Linked DNA regions of Homo sapiens: region 2 is linked to region 1. Evidence: fine-mapped expression QTL. Tissue or cell type: whole blood. Region 1 holds a variant in brackets; the other region holds the start of a gene. All regions are shown on one strand. Distances are from middle to middle.

Region 1 (8,103 bases):
TGGAAGCCAAATGTCCAGTCAAGGAGTCAGGAATTTCTCCCAAAGGTAGGGAGGAGCCCTGGAAAGTCCTTGAGCTGGTGTAGGTCAAGGGCAAGGCCACAAGGGCAAAAAATGCCTTAGGTTGAACAGGGCATTTGTCTTAATGACCTCACAGAAGGGCAGAGTCAGCACCCTGAGCCATTTACTGAGGACCTACTATGTGCTAGGATCTGGATGGGATGCTCTACATGTATTATGTCAAACACACCCACAGTGACCTCTTTATAATAGATGAGGTTCATTTGTCAGAAAGGCTAAAGGACTTTCTGGAATCCTGGCCCCAAGACGTGGACTGCCTGCCCAGACAGCTATCACATGCTCCTCACATTCTGCTGGGTTCTGGCCTCAGACCCAGCCGAATGGCACAATGGAAATGGCAGAGGCCGGAGAGCCAGCCTGGCTGCGTGACCCTGTGCAAGTCAGGTCCAGTTGCTGAGTCTCAGTTTCTTCACTTGTAAATGGTCTTCCCACAAATGGGTGTTCAATAAATGCCAGTTCTTCCTCCCTCTCCCCCTTTATAAATTCCAGGAAATGGTTTTTGAAAGACTTACGAGAGTTTGTGTCTATCACAAATGAGGTTAGGGCATTTCTAAGACTCTAGAGTCCCTTCAACCCCTGCTGGAAAACCAACCTGTTTCCCTTTTCAACAGTTGAACTGGTGTACATCTGTTCACATCTTTAGTGATAAGGTGAGGAGAAAATTATGACAGGCAGCTCGTTTCTGGCAGCCCCTTTTAGCTTTTTTTTTTGAGACAGAGTCTTGCTCTGTTGCCCAGGCCGGAGTGCAGTGGCACAATCTCGGCTCACTGCAACTTCTGCCTCCCGGGTTCAAGCAATTCTCTTGCCTCAGCCTCCCAAGTAGCTGAGATTTCAGGCACATGCCACCACGCCCGGCTAATTTTTTTGTATTTTTAGTAGAGACGGGTTTCACCATGTTGGCCAGGCTGGTCTCGAACTTCTGATCTCGTGATCTGCCTGCCTCGGCCTCCCAAAGTGCTGGGATTACAGGCTTGAGCCACCGTGCCCAGCGTCAGCCCCTTTTAAAGGGGACCTTAAAGAACAAAAAACAGCCACAAAACTCTGTCCCTATCAATAACATGTCAATGATTTAAGAGCCCCTCCTCTTTTTTTTTTTTTTTTTTGAGACAGAGTTTAACTTTTGTTGCCCAGGCTGGAGTGCAATGGCACGACATTGGCTCACCGCAACCTCCGCCTCCCGGGTTCAAGCGATTCTCCTGCCTCAGCCTCTTGAGTAGCTGGGATTACAGGCATGCGCCACCACACCCGGCTAATTTTGAATTTTTAGTAGAGACGGGGTTTCTCCATGTTGGTCAGGCTGGTCTTGAACTCCCGACCTCAGTTGATCCACCCGCCTCAGCCTCCCAAAGTGCTGGGATTACGGGTGTGAGCCACTGTGCCCAGCCAAAAGAGCCCCTCCTCTAAAAAAAAAAGTAAAATTGTCAAAAGCCTGCATTTGGGGATGCCCTAGGTCAATGCTTCTTGAAATGTCTGTGGTAAACGACCAGATTTTTGGTTTTTGCTTTTTTTCCCAATCCTTCATGGACCTATCCATTTTATAAGACACAATATAAGTTACTAGAAAAATGAGAAAAGAAAACTAAGACATAGTATAACATTTTATTATTAGTTTCAACAGACATGAAATTACTGTGCCATATTGCTCTGAAGTCTCTGAACAGTTCCGCTCCATTTCTGTAATTATTTTGTCAAGAACCAGTAACAAGCTGTTCATGGACGTGCATTGGTCTCCAGACCACATTGGAGTAACACAGCACTGCCCTGGAACTCTTTGTTGTGACTAAATGCTGGCATTGTAAGGTTGTTGCGAGTTAAGAAACACAAAACTAACCGGTGAATTGCAAAGTGCTATACACTAATTGGTTAGGGATGTCATCTTAGCCACTTTCACCCAGATAAGCTGAGAAGGCTCCTAGAAGGGCAGGGCTTGCCTGAAGTCACATAGCTGGTAAGTGGCAGATGCAGAACTGGCATCCCAGTTCCCACCCAGTGCTCTTTCCACTCTGCCTTGGGCAGTGGATACGAGGATGTGTCCCCAGGCGCATTTTCGGGGAAGAACTCCATTCCCAGCTGCAGGAAGTGTAGTCTGCCCCTTCTGAGATCACCTCCACTGCAGAGAGCTGCCTCTGCAAGGGCATACAGCCCATGACTGAGCCAGCCAGGGTAGAAAGGCCGGGCCACGTCAGCCCAGATCAATACAACTCTGATGGGACATTTCAGTTTGACTTCTCCCTCCATCCAAATTTGCTGCGTTCCCTTCCTTCTTGTGGTATTGACTCCAAAGGTTCTCTAAGAAACATCCTGTAGGCTACACACCATCTCAGAATCCACTTCCTGGAGAACCCAATCTGTGACATCATGCGTATTTAAAGGGGTAAATCTCAGTACGAGGCTCGGAGAGGTTAAAAAATTTGTCTGCAGTCACACTGTTTTTAAGTGGTGGAGCGAGGATTTGAATTCAGATCTGACTGCAAAGGCTGTATTTTTGTCTAATAAAGTGTGACCTGACTACCAGCTTGGGAAACAAAAGAAAGGATCAGAATGGTTGGATTTAATCTGTAAAATTAAAAATAACTCTTATTTATTCAAAATGGCACAGCCATTTTAGAAGACAGTTTGGCAGATTCTCATAAAGTTAAACATAGACTTACTACACAACTGAGCAACTGTGCTCTTAGGTATTTACTCTACTGATTGGAAAACTAGTCTATATGAAAACCTGTACATGAATGTTTATGGCCACTTTATTCATAATCACCAAAAACTGGAAGCAACCAAGATGTCCTTCAATAGGTGAATGGATGTTTTAAAAACCTGTGGTTCAATCCATACAATGGAATCCTATTCAGAAATACAGATAACTGAGCTGTAAATTCACACAATAGCATGGATGAATCTTAAGTGCATTTTGCTAAGCCAAAGAAGCCAGACCAAAAAGGCTACATACTGTATGATTTCACTCCTATGACATTCTGGAAAAGGATAACATATAGGGACAAAAAAGCATATCAGCTGTAGGGAGCCTATGGCTGAGGAAGCACTGGGAGCTTTCTAGGGCAGTAGAACTAATTCCTATGGTATTATAGTGCTGTCTACTTGATACTATGCATTTGTTAAAAACCACAAGGTAGGCCAGGAGCGGTGGCTCATGTCTGTAATCCTACCACTTTGGGAGGCCGAGGTGGGTGGATCACCTGAGGTCAGGAGTTCGAGACCAGCCTGGCCAACATGGTGAAACCCCGTCTCTACTAAAAATACAAAAATTAGCCAGGCTAGGTGGCAGGCGCCTATAATCCTAGCTACTCGGGAGGCTGAGGCAGGAACGTCGCTTGAACCCAGGAAGTGGAGGTTGCGGTGAGCCAAGATCATGCCACTGCACTCCAGCCTGGGTGACAAGAGTGAAACTCCATCCCCCACCCCCCAAAAAAAAACCCACAAGGTAAACTTTAATGTACAGAAATTAAACTTTTAGAATCGCCCAAAAAGTTAAGGTATCCCAGGGTAGAATGCAGACTGTGATGATGAAAGAATCTCAATTGTCTTATAAATGTATGAGAAAACTTCACTGAAGGGAGTGAGAGAACAAAGGGCTGACCTAAGTAACTTTGGGAAAGAATATTTTGACTGGAAACTGCAAGACTGATGTAAAAATACAATGTCCATAAACACTGCACCGTACTTGGTAAAGATGAATTTATCATGGGGGTGCAGGGTAACAAGTCTGAAACTGCCATACATGTGTTGCAATTGAACACATAAGTAAATAGATGACAGGGGCCACTTTTCTCACTGTTGGAGAAGGAGGATGACTAGAATGATCCATGTGGTAAGGAATTAGAGGGAGACATCATATGAACTCATATTTAGTTTAATATAGACACAGCTGGATAGATGCAATTATAAATAGGTATGTATACATGGGAAATATATGTCTCCTAGCTCTGTCTTCTGAGAGGGACTAGAAACAGTGGCACCCAGTAGCAACTAGCACACCGAGAGCTCAGATCTTGGTTTCTAATACCTTTCTCTAAAAAAAGAATTCCTGGC[C/A]AGACACGGTGGCTCATGCCTGTAATCCCAGCACTTGGGAGGCTGAGGTGGGAGAATCATAAGGTCAGGAGTTCAAGACCAGCCTGGCTAACATGGTGAAACCCTTTCTCTACTAAAAATACAAAAATTAGTCAGGCGTGGTGGCAGGCACCTGTAATCCTAGCTACTCAGGAAGCTGAGGTGGGAGAATTGCTTGAATCCAGGAGGCGAAAGTTGTAGAGAGCCAAGATTGCACCACTGCACTCCAGCCTGGGAGACAAGAGTAAAACTCCATCTCAAAAATAAAATAAAATAAGTAAAAAATAAAAATAAATATAAAAAGAATTCCTGAGACACTTAAAGAAATGCCTGATTCTAGGGCTGGAGTAGGGAAAATGCAAGATGAGCCTGAAAAATCTTGTAGTGCCAGAAAGTAAAGAAGTGCTTAAAAAAACAAAATGATGAGGATATCTCAAAAGGACACAGGAGCCAAACAGAACAAGCTCCCAATGTCCACAGCTGCAACAATTCAAACAATAAAATAAACAACATAGTACTGGGATTATAATCCAAAGTGTAAAATAAATATCCATGAGTACATACTGATATAAATGATTGAATAATAAATAAATGGGAGAGAAGAGACAAATCTCCCTAAGAGAAGAATCCCAAATAACTTCTGTAGATATTCCCCCTGAGATGAAGCTCAGCCCTCTCCCAGTTGAACTGGGTTGTGCTTAGAGACTTGCTTCCAAGGGTAGCACTGAGAAAGAGCTGGGTGTGGAGGGAGGGACAGGGAGTAACTTTATAGTGAAAGCACCTAGAAAACACTACCTCTGCCAGGTGATCAAGGTTAAAATCACCAGTGATAAGTCATGTTGATAGTAAGTACCCTTGATGTATTATGATGAGAATGGCACATCACTCCTGTGGCCTTTCTCCCCAAACGCCATAACCCCAGTTTAATCAGGAGAAAAACATCAGATAAATCCATATTGAGGAACAGCCCACAGAACACCTGACCTGTACTTCTCAAAACTAAACATCATCAAATACAAGGAAAATCTGAGAAACTGTCACAGACCAGAGGAGGCTAAGAAGACATGATATCTAAATGAAATATGGTATCCTGGGTGGGATCCTCTAACAGATAGAAGTCACTAGGAAAAACCAGTAAAATTGGAATAAAATAAGGAGTTTGATAGTAATGTGCCAATCTTGCCTTTTTAGTTGTGACAAATGTGTAATAGTTCTGAACATTTAAGGTGAAGTGTGTATAGGAATTCTCTTTACTATCTGTGCATCTTTTCTGTAAATCTAAAACTATTCTAAAATTAAAATTTTATTTACATTGAGAACAATTGCTGTGAGATGTCATGTTAGGTTTCTGCAGCTGTTATAGCAAATTACCATAAACTTAGTCATTTAAAACAACAGAAATGTATCCTCTTACAGTTCTGAAGGCAAGAAGTCTGAAATCAGTGGCAATGGTGTCAGTTTGATAAGGTGCCAGCAGGGCCACTTCCCTCCAGAGGCTCTAGGGGGGAATCTGTTTCCTTAACTTGTCCAGCTTCTAGAGCTACTTTCCTTGGCTCATGGGCCCTTCCTCCATCTCCACAGGTAGCAGCATCTTCAAATCTTTCTCTCTGCTTCCACCATCACATCATCTTCTGCCCTCTGTGTCTCGTAGAATCTCTCTCTGCTTCCCTCTTATGAACATGTAATGGCATTCAGAGCCTGTCCATATCATCCAGGGTAAGCTCCCATCTCAAGATCCTCAGCATAATCACATCTGCAGAGCTCCCTCAACCTTTTTTGCCATGTAAGCTAACATCCACAGGTTGTAGAGACTAGGATGTAGATATCTTTTGGGGGGCCACTTTTCAGCCTACCACAGATGCTAGGCAAGTTCTTCACTCTCTCTGAGACTCAGGTTCCTCATCTGGAAGTGATATATGCAAATGTGAAATAAATTAGGAGGGCTGATCTGCCACTGGACTGGTAGAAGGGGAAGGCAGGAGCCTGAAGAGCCCCTTGTCTTGGGCAAATGAGACCTGACACTACTCTCTTCCCCATGTGTTCCTCCCATCCACATTGGCCATGTCCTCATGGTAGTATAAATAAAGAAATGTGGGGTTAGGGATCCTAAGACCTGAGTTCAAGTCCCAGTCCTGTCAGCAACTTGCAGCATGTCCTCGGGTAAGTCACTTTCTGTATCTGGAGTATATAGTGATTCTACAAAACATATATGTTAATTCTGCCCTGGAAAAGGGCTGGAGAGGGACTACTGAGATCCCTCTTGCCCTGAGAGGTCATAATTATGGGATGTTTATATTCCTGGCGTCTTTCTTTTGACTAAAGGATCTAGGTCCCTCCTAGTAACTAGAGCCCAGTGGAAGCAGCAATGCTTAGTAATGGTAGTAATGGCAAAGATTTAGGCACTGTGGCTTGTGGGACGGTAAAGAGGGGAGGGAAGAGCCTCCTGTTTCTTACTCGCTTCTACCAAGGCCCCATTAGTCTAGACTAAGGGTGAGCAAGCTATAGCCTCTGTTTGAATGACCTGTGGGCTAAGAACGGTTTTTACAGATGAACATTTGAAATCAATTTAATGATAGGAAACACGAACTTTGAGCCCCAGTGAACTAAAATGTTATCTTCCAAAAAAGAACTTCATTATTCTTATTACAAGACCTATGTTACAAAAAATTATACTCAATTATTTACTTTGGGTTTACAGTTAAAATTTTGTAGCCAGGTGTGATGTCATGCACCTTAGTCCCAGCTATTCTGGAGACTGAGGCAGGAGGATCGCTTGAGCCCAGGAGCTCTGGGCTGTAGTGTGCTATACCAATTGTGTGTTCACACTCAGTTCAGCATCATTATGGTGACTTCCTGGGAGCAAGGGACCACCAGGTTGCCTAAGGAGGGGTAAACCAGCCCAGGTCAGAAATGGAGCAGGTTAAAACTCCTGTGCTGATTGGTAGTGGGGTCGCACCTGTGAATAGCCACTGCACTCCAGCCTGGGCAACTTCATGAGACCCCATCTCTTTAAAAAAACAAAAACAAAAACAGGCCGGGCATGGTGGCTCATGCCTGTAATTCTAGCACTTTGGGAGGCCTAGGTGGGCAGATTGCCTGAGCTCAGGAGTTAAAGACCAGCCTGGGCAACACGGTGAAATCCTGCCTCTACTAAAATTTAAAAAAAAATTAGCTGGGCGTGGCGGTGGGTGCCTGTAGTCCCATCTACTTGGGACACTGAGGCAGGAGAATTGCTGGAACCCAGGAGGTGGAGGTTGCAGTGAGCCGAGATCGCACCACTGCACTCCAGCCTGGGCAACAGAGTGAGATTCCATCTCTAAAAACAACAACAACAACAACAACAAATATCTTGTAGAAACACATTTCATCGCTTGTTATATGAATACCTGCATAATATCCTGGACTTTGCCTTTCTGCCTGCAAGCCTCTGTCAGCCCTCAATTAATGAGTTGTCTTATCTTCCACCTCAAATCTATCTTAAGCTATCCACCCTCCACTTTGCAGCCAGAAGGATCTTTCTAATGTAAGTCTGACCATACCATTCACCTGATTCAAACTTCCCAGTGGTCTATCTGTCCAGCTCCTTGGCTGGCATACAGCCCGCACAGTCTGGTTTCTGTCTTCCTTCCCAGCCACTCTCTACCCTCCAGCCATATTGAACTTCCAGTTCTCTAGGGCACCTTGCTTCCCCCAGGACCAGCATTTTACACAAGCTGTTCCCTCTGCCTAAGATGCTGTTCACTACTCAAATTCAATTCCTCCTTAGTCTTTTAAGTCATTTTAGACATTAACTCCACCAAAAAGCCATCCCTGATCCAACCTCCCTCCAGGCTGTGAGGTGCCTCCTCTTGGCTTCCGCAATTCCCTGCTTCCTTCCAGCCTAGCATTGATCACACTTTTGTTTTTCAGTGGTGTTTTTTTTTTTTTTTTTAGATGGAGTTTCGCTCTTGTTGCCCAGGC
Region 2 (8,103 bases), 76 kb after region 1:
AGTTAGGGATTCTATGTGCATCATTTTCTGAAACGTAGTGCCCAGGCTGGACACCTGGCAAAGGTCTGATGGGTGTTTGACTAGACAGGTAAGTGAATGGAAGAAAGAGGGCTCTGTTGAAAGGAAGGGGATAGATTTAACTCAATACAGTTTGAGACACTGAAAGACCCATCTGCCCTATCTTGCTCTTGTTTACCCAATGCATCAGGCCCATGAGGTGGGAGGAGGAAGTGGAGGCAAATGGATTGGGGTAGGCTTAGCTTTTTGGCCCTGGAAACTGAATGTTTGATTTAAATACCCAACATGGTACTAATTAGCTGTTAAAACACTAGCTATTCCCGAGCCAAACAGATCTAAACACCTATTGTTCATCTACTAAACTCCCAATCATCCTTTATAACTTTGGTGAAGCCTGCTCTGACCTTGCCCACCAGCTCCTGAAGAGTTGGTCACTCTTACCACTTGACCTTGGACCCCTTCTATCATTGCATATACATTGCATTTGGCCACCTTATAATCTATGTTCTCTAAACTTGGATATATGTTTCTCTGGGGGATATATAGCACTATGTAAATATTATAATAATTTAATTCTGTGATTTAAAATATTTTTATGTTGAAACAATCAGCCATATTATGAAATAGGATCCCAATAATAAAAGAGTTTTTAGGGCCGGGCGCGGTGGCTCATGCCTGTAATCCCAGCACTTTGGGAGGCTGAGGTGGGTGGATCATTTGAGGTCAGGAGTTCAAGACCACCCTGACCAACATGGTGAAATCCTGTCTCTACTAAAAATACAAAAAAACTTAGCTGGGTGTGGTGGTGCATGCCTGTAGTCCCAGCTACTTGGGAGGCTGAGGCAGGAGAATCACTTGAACCTGGGAGGCAGAGGTAGCAGTGAGCTGAGATCGCACCACTGCACTCCAGCCTGAGTCACAGAGAGAGACTCTGTCTCAAAAACAAGAAAGAAAAGTTTTTAGAATGAAATAGGACATATGAAAATAATGACAGCTAGTATTTATTAAAAATGTACTATCTCCCAGACAGTGTGTTAAATGCTTTACATCATCTTGAATACTTTGCAAGCAGCAGGCTTTTGAGTTCTTCCCAATGCCCCTAGGGATGAGAGTCCTAGTTCTCCTAATGTTTTCGGCATTTGGGAAAAGTGGGAGAAGGGTTGTTTACTTGAGCTCTGCATTTCCAGAACCCAGTAGCTAGCCTGTGCAAAGGTGAACCTCAGTAAAGGCTTGTGGAAAGAATAGATCCTGCTCTCTGCTGGAATGTCCTTTCCTCCCTCTCTCCTGACTTGGTGAACTCTTATTGGCCCTTCAATACCCTGTTTCAATGTCACCTCCACTGTGAAATCTGACTCTCAACTATTTTCTCTGGCTCCCACTGCCTTTGGGCTTCCCTCAGACCCAGCAGTGAGTAACTGGATGATCACTCTTCGTTTGTTTTTGATATGGGGTCTCAGTCTGTTGCCCAAGCTGGAGTACAGTGGCATGATCTTGACTCACTGCAGCCTCAACCTCCCCAGGCTCAGGTAATCCTCCCACCTCAGCCTCCTCAGTAGCTGGGACTATAGGTGAAAACGACATGCTGGGCTAATTTTTGTATTTTTGTAGAGACAAGGTTTTGCCATGTTGCCCAGGCTGGTCCCAAATTCTTGGGCTCAAGCAAGAATTGTGATAATGTGTTATGGCAGCCTCAGAAAACTAATACAGCTTAGAAACAGAAATGTGTTTTCTGTGAAATTCCCCCAGATCTTGGCACCACATGAGTTCAATCAGATAATATTTGGGATTTCCCAGTGACTCCTTTCTCAACAAACACCTGATCAAGCGACTCCTTTCTCAACAAACACCTGACCACACGCCCCAGGCTCCAGCCATGAGGAACCACTCAGTGTGTCAGAACAGGAGACAGTGTGACATCTTTGTGATCCAGCTCTGAGAAAAGATCCAAGGTGTTTTTCAGGCTTCTGAACACCCTGGAAAGATAGTATGCTTACATTTTGTTTAAAAAATTTAAAATGCAACTACTATATGCCAGGTCCTGTGTGGGCACTTTACATATGTTGATTTACTTTAATCCCTACAGCAATCCTATTACTATTTTAAAGCTGAGAGAGGGGAAGTGACTTGCCTTGGGATACATAGCTCAAAGGTGGTAGAGCCAAGATTCCAAAGTGCCTGATTCCTATTGTGTCTGACTCTAAAACACTATGTTCTTTCTGCTATGTTCATCCAGGTGGTGGAAAAATTCAGTCTAGGAGTAAAAAAAGGAAGATCAACATCCTGCAGAATGACTCATGCTATTCATTATAGAAGCAATTGCTGGAGATGCTATCATTGTGGATCACGGAAGTCTTCATGGAAGAGGTGGCATTTGAGCTGGGCCTTCACTGCAAAAAAAAAAAAAAAAAATTTCCTGATTCTCTGTCAGGCACTGGGGATCCAGAGATGAATCAGACAAAGTCCTTTTGCTTGAAGAATTCACAGTATTTTGTGTGTGTGTGGGAAGGAGGGTGGCTGCTTACATGTGTTAAAAGACAATGTGGCCAGGCCTGGTGGCTCATGCCTGTAATCCCAACACTTTGGGAGCCCGAGACTGGAGGATCGCTTGAGCCTGGGAGTTTGAGACTAGTCTGGGAAATATGGCCAGAACCCCATCTTTACAAAAAAATTTTAAAATTAGCTGGGCCTGGTGGCATGTGCCTGTATTCCCAGCTACTTAGGAGGGTGAGGTGGGAGGATCACTTGAGCCCAGGAGGTCGAGGCTGCAATGAGCCGTGATTTTGCCACTGCACTCCAGCCCGGGCGAAAGAATGAGGCACTGTTAAAAAAAATTAATAGAATAATCCAGACCCACGGTAGGGTCAAAATTCCTAACTCAAGGTCCCAGAGAGGCTCAGAGAAGCCTTTTGGAAGAAGGGACTCCTGCCCCAGCTAAGACTGATGGATAAGTAGCAAAGGCTTTCTGGGGACACAGCACAAACAGCCCACCTGAAGCGGTGAATCGGCGTCCTGGGTGCCTGGCACACCTTGTAGCTCAGCTTACTAGCTAGTGGAGTGCGAAGGGGCGTGTACTTGTCGGTTGGAGCTGGTCATGAAAGAGCTCGTGGGACTGCCCGACGGTTCTCAGGTCCCAGTGCATCCTGCGTGGTGGCTCTCTGCTGAACCATAAAGCATTCCTTTTCAATCCCTGCACGCTCACGCCGGGAAAAGACTGCACAAGGGGCCTGCCAAGGCAGACAAGCGATCGCCACCCAGCTGGCTTCCGAGGGTCCCCGCCCTCCACCGGAGGCCTGTTACCACGGCAACCAGTGAGGGCGGAAGTGGCTCAGAAGACCGGTTCTCCCTAATCAGGTGACTCTCCCGCCTCCTGCACGTGACACCGGAGCCCAGAAGCGCGCTCTACCTAATCAAGACCCCACCCCTCTTTCCCTTTACTGACAATTGACAGCGACCTCTTGCAATGGCCCTTCCGCCTCCACCAGGAGACTCTGCCCGTTGGTAGTAAAAGAACCAATTAGACTGGGAAAAAAAGAAGCAACGCCCCAGGTTTCACCCCGGCTTGACAGACGCAATTGAGGCCATCCTTGAGTCCCTCCGCCCCCAAGTCCAGTAATGCCAGCGATGGACAGACCTTCTACCCAATAGCACGCCCCTTTTCTGCCGTTGGGTCCCGCCCCCTTGAGGGCTAAGCCAATGAGCGCTCCGGGTCTCAGCGGGGTGGAGGGGTTGCACTGCGGTAATATGGCTCTTCCTTAGCCAGCGGCGGCAACGGCGGCAGCGGCGGCAGCGGCGGCGGCTACTGTCTGGGCTGAGCAGTAGTGCCTCTCGGGTGGCGGGTTTCTAGGCTGCAGGGGCTTGGTAGGTGGTGGCAAGGGGGCGGCGGCGGATGCCGGAAGAGTGCCCGCCCCGCCGCTTGGCGGCCCCTGGATCGAGATGAGCGCCTCCGCGTCGGTCGGGGGCCCCGTCCCCCAGCCACCCCCGGGCCCGGCCGCTGCTCTGCCTCCCGGTTCTGCCGCGCGGGCCCTGCATGTGGAGCTGCCGTCTCAGCAGGTAAGCCCGCGCGGCTCGCAGCACTCGGGAGGGACCCGGGCAGGCCCGCGTGGAGAGCTTGCTGGCTCCGGGCTGACCCCGCGAGCCGGGACACCCAGAGCAGGGACCCGGAGGGCTCGCGGGACTGAGGAAGACTGTCAGGAGGTTTGTGCGGGGAGGGGTCCAGTGATGGCCGAACCTCCGGGAGATCCCGGAGTCCTAGGAGAATCCCGTTACAGGAGATGGGCTTGTTAAGGGACAAGCAGCCAGCCAGCTCAAGTCCCTGGGGCCCCGGCCCGAGGCCGCCTCCCCCAACGCAGGGAGCCGGGGATTGCCCCGCGCAGACCCTCTCCCTCGTTCCGCCCAGGAAGGGACCCGGGGAACCCCCTGTGTCCCACGGGCCATAGTGAAAGCACTTTTCCTTTCTTTCCCCACCTGGCCATCCCCGCTTACGGAGAAACCAGTTTGTACTCTTCGTGCAAGAGCCCTGGAGGAGACTTTAGGGTGTCTACCATTTGCTTTAATCTCCCCTGATTATTAAGTATTCGGCCTCTTTAGAGAAATGTATTCAAGACTTGGGGGTTTCCTTCCTAATTCTCCGAGTCCCAAGGAACGCATCTTAATAATTAGGAGGACTTTTTCCTTCTTCATTCCCTTCAGTGAGTCTCTGTGGAAGGAGGATTTGATGTATATATTCATGTGTTCCTCCATCCTTTAGGAAGGGCTTTGAGGACTTCTTGGCTCTGCGTTGTAGGAAGATAAGAAGGGGGAAACACTGACTTTGGAGATGTGACAAAACTCTTTGTTTCACTCACATATCTGTAGAGTACTTCCCTCCTTATATCGGTTGCCTTCCTTCTGTCCCCCAAGGGGAGATTTTGCAGGAATCTTAGCATTAAAGAGACCTAAAGAATACCTTTCACCCTCTCCCTTTATTCCTCCTGCCAAGAAGAGGATCTAGAGAAACTGTCATTTACTGAGAACTTACCGTGTTGGATTTGTGCAAAGGGCTCAGTGGCCATTAGTTCACTGAATTTTCACAACTCTGTGAGATAGCTGTTTTTATTACCCCCATTTGGCAGTTGAGGAAACTGAGGCTTGTCCAGAGCCTTCCAGTTAGTAAGTGGTGGGGCTGGGTTGCAGAATCCAGTGTCTGACTCTGCAGCCATGCACGTGCTTGAGACTTGGGCAGCCTTCCTCCACCACCTTTACACAGGACAGAGTGAGTTCTTTCATACACCCCTCCAACTTTCCATCAGCTACCAGTGGGACTTAGGAAGGATTCAGAAAGAGGAAGGGAGAGGTTGTAGGGGAGAGAGTGGTTGAAAAGTGAAATGGATTTGAGTGCAGTAAAGGAGGCGGGGGCTAAAGGGAAGAGAAGAGTTGGAGATAATAACCACTGTGGTTGCCTTTGAATAGGCAGGCAGAAGAGCTTACAGTAGCAACGGCTTTTTGTGTGACTACTACCGAAGAGGATTGAAAAGATACCATGTGCCCTGGTTTTGTGATGCTGTTGGCAGGGAATTTCTGAATAGTGGGAGTTTGAGGGTAGTGGGGGTTTGGATTGTGTTGTGAGATACAGGGAGAGGGTAGAAGTCTGGCTAGGGAGGGAGACACGTCTCTGGAGTGAGCATTAATGTGAGTTTTTGTATGTGTGGGAGGTAGAGTGTGAGAGTGGTTACTGGGAGAGGGAATAGGGAGCACCGTTAGAAACACCCTGGAGAAGTCCTAAGGAGTTCAGGGGCCAAGAAGGTTTTAGTTTGGGGGAGCTTCGAGAGTGTGTGGGATTAGGAAAGAGAAAGCATCATTTACTTCATGGAGCCTATTCTCTGATAACAGTTCACAGTTTAACACTGGGAAAACTAATGCAAACAAACTGTTGATGGAATAATTTCAGCCTCATTTGTTAGTGTTTGTGAAATTTTTGGATTGGTGCCGAGGGATATATAGTGGCTTAAGTGTACAGCTGAATGCTATATGAGTGCCGAGTATGCTATTTACATCTTTCTGGGGGTGTCAACCTTGAATTCTTGGAAGGCAGCCTATATAACAAAGCACTTTTACTTTTGCAGTTGACATCAATTTATCTTTTGGGGTCAAAATGCTCAGATTTTTAGTGTATAAATAATATCAATAAAATTTTGTTGAAGTTTTATCTGTATATAGTAAAGTACACAGATTATCAGTATTCAGTGGATGAATTGTCACCAAGGGAACAGTTATGTAAGTACTACCCAGATTAAGAGATACAAAATTTTGGCTGGGCGCAGTGGCTCACACCTGTAATCCTAGCACTTTTGGAGGCTGAGGTGGGGGGATCACTTGAGGCCAGAAGTTCAAGACCAGCCTGGCCAACATGCTGAAACCCTGTCTCTACTAAAAGTACAAAAAAAAGAAAAAAAAAAAAAAAGCCAGATGTGGTGGCGCACATTTGTAATCCCAGCTACTTGGGAGGCTGAGGCAAGAGAATTGCTTGAACCTGGGAGGCGCAGGTTGCAGTAAGCCGAGATTGCGCCACTGCACTCCAGCCTGGGTGACAGAGTGAGACTCTATCTAAAAACAAACAAACAAACAAACAAACAAAAAACCCCCCAAAAACCCCAAAATTATTAACATCCTGGAAGTCCTCCTATGTTCTCTTCCATCTCTGTTTTTCCTTTTTCTCTAAAGGAACCACTTTTCTGATTTCTAATGTAAAAGATCAGTTTTTGCCTGTTCTTGAGCTTTATATAAATGGAGTTGTGCAAAATGTATTTTTTTGTGTCTGGTTTCTTTTACTCAGTATTGTTTGTGAGAGTCATGGAGTATCTGTGTATGTCTAATGTTTTTTTTTTAAGTATTACTTTGTTGCCTTTTTTTGCTTTTACAAAATTTCAAATATTTAGATAAATTGGAATGTCAGTTGTTAACTTTCCTTTAAATAATACTTTCAAAACCATACATTTTAATACATCCCGTACTAGTTGGCAAGGTATCAATTTTTTTTTTTTTTTGAGATGGAGTCTAGCTCTGTTGCCCAGGCTGGAGTGCAGTGGCGCGATCTTGGCTTATTGCAACCTCTGCCTCCTGGGTTCAAGCGATTCTCCTGCCTCACCCTCCCAAATAGCTGGGATTACAAGCACCTGCCACCACGCCCAGCTAATTTTTGTATTTTTAGTAGAGACGGGGTTTCATTGTGTTGGCCAGGCTGGTCTGGAACCCCTGTCCTTGTGATCCTCCCACCTCGGCCTCCCAAAGTGCTAGAATTACAAGTGTGAGCCATTGCGCCCGGCTGGTATCAATATTTCTAAACAAATAAACAAGCCCGGTTGGTTTAGGATTTTTATGATCAAGTTATCTCAAAACATAGATTCAGTGGCTCCCAACCTTCTTCTAAGATGGGGTTTGTCAACCTTGGGACTGTTGACATTTTGGAGTGAAGATGGGCTGTTACATGTTTAGCCACATCCCAAGATATCAGCAGCACCTCCCCAGTCCTGACAATCAAAAATGAGTTCAGACATGGCCAAATGTTTCTTAGGGGGCAAAATTACCCCTAGTTGAGAACCACCTTACTAAGGTGTATTTTCATTTTAGGATAGAGAGTATCCTTGTTATTATTGACTCATTTATTTCAATCTTCATTAAGTCCTGTTGATTCTAGAAGTGGCTGTAATGTTTAAAAAGTTAACACTGCAAACACCTGAACTTTTCCATGTATGAGTACTAACTATAGTCCATATCAGCCCCTTGACTGTGTCAGATGGGACTACTACTTAATTTTGTCTCCTTTTGCTTCTATGTGATCTTACTTTACTGTAATTTGAGCAAGAACTAGTGACACATTTTTTTTACACTTTTTTTTTGTTTTGTTTTTGATTTTTGAGACAGTTTTACTCTGGTCACCCAGGCTGGAATGCAGTGGTGCAATCTCCTCTCACTGCAACCTGCCCCTCCCGGGTTCAAGCAATCCTCCCACCTCAGCCTTCCGCATAGCTGGGATCACAGGCTGTGCCACCATGCCCAGCTAATTTTTGTATTTTTGGTAGAGATGGGGTTTCACCATGTTGGCAGGCT

Evidence for each region. PIP is the estimated chance that this variant, and not a neighbour inherited with it, causes the effect.
Region 2: UVRAG starts here. The variant in region 1 is fine-mapped to the expression of UVRAG in whole blood (INTERVAL, PIP 0.91).

What each region holds. Positions count from the first base shown.
Region 1 is chr11:75,735,275-75,743,377 of GRCh38, forward strand. It overlaps the pseudogene RN7SL786P. Among named protein-coding and RNA genes, the nearest start is that of MOGAT2, 21 kb to the left of the region's middle. The variant C/A (reference allele first, on the strand shown) is at 4,126.
Region 2 is chr11:75,811,457-75,819,559 of GRCh38, forward strand. It overlaps UVRAG (UV radiation resistance associated), which reads left to right and starts at 3,754. Exons shown (of 15, transcript NM_003369.4): 1 at 3,754-4,068. The coding sequence starts at 3,952. UVRAG-DT (UVRAG divergent transcript) reads right to left here and starts at 3,341. Exons shown (of 2, transcript NR_144531.1): 1 at 3,007-3,341; 2 at 2,058-2,405. RefSeq lists enhancers at 1,865-3,064, 2,988-3,417, 3,288-3,582 and a silencer at 3,878-4,077.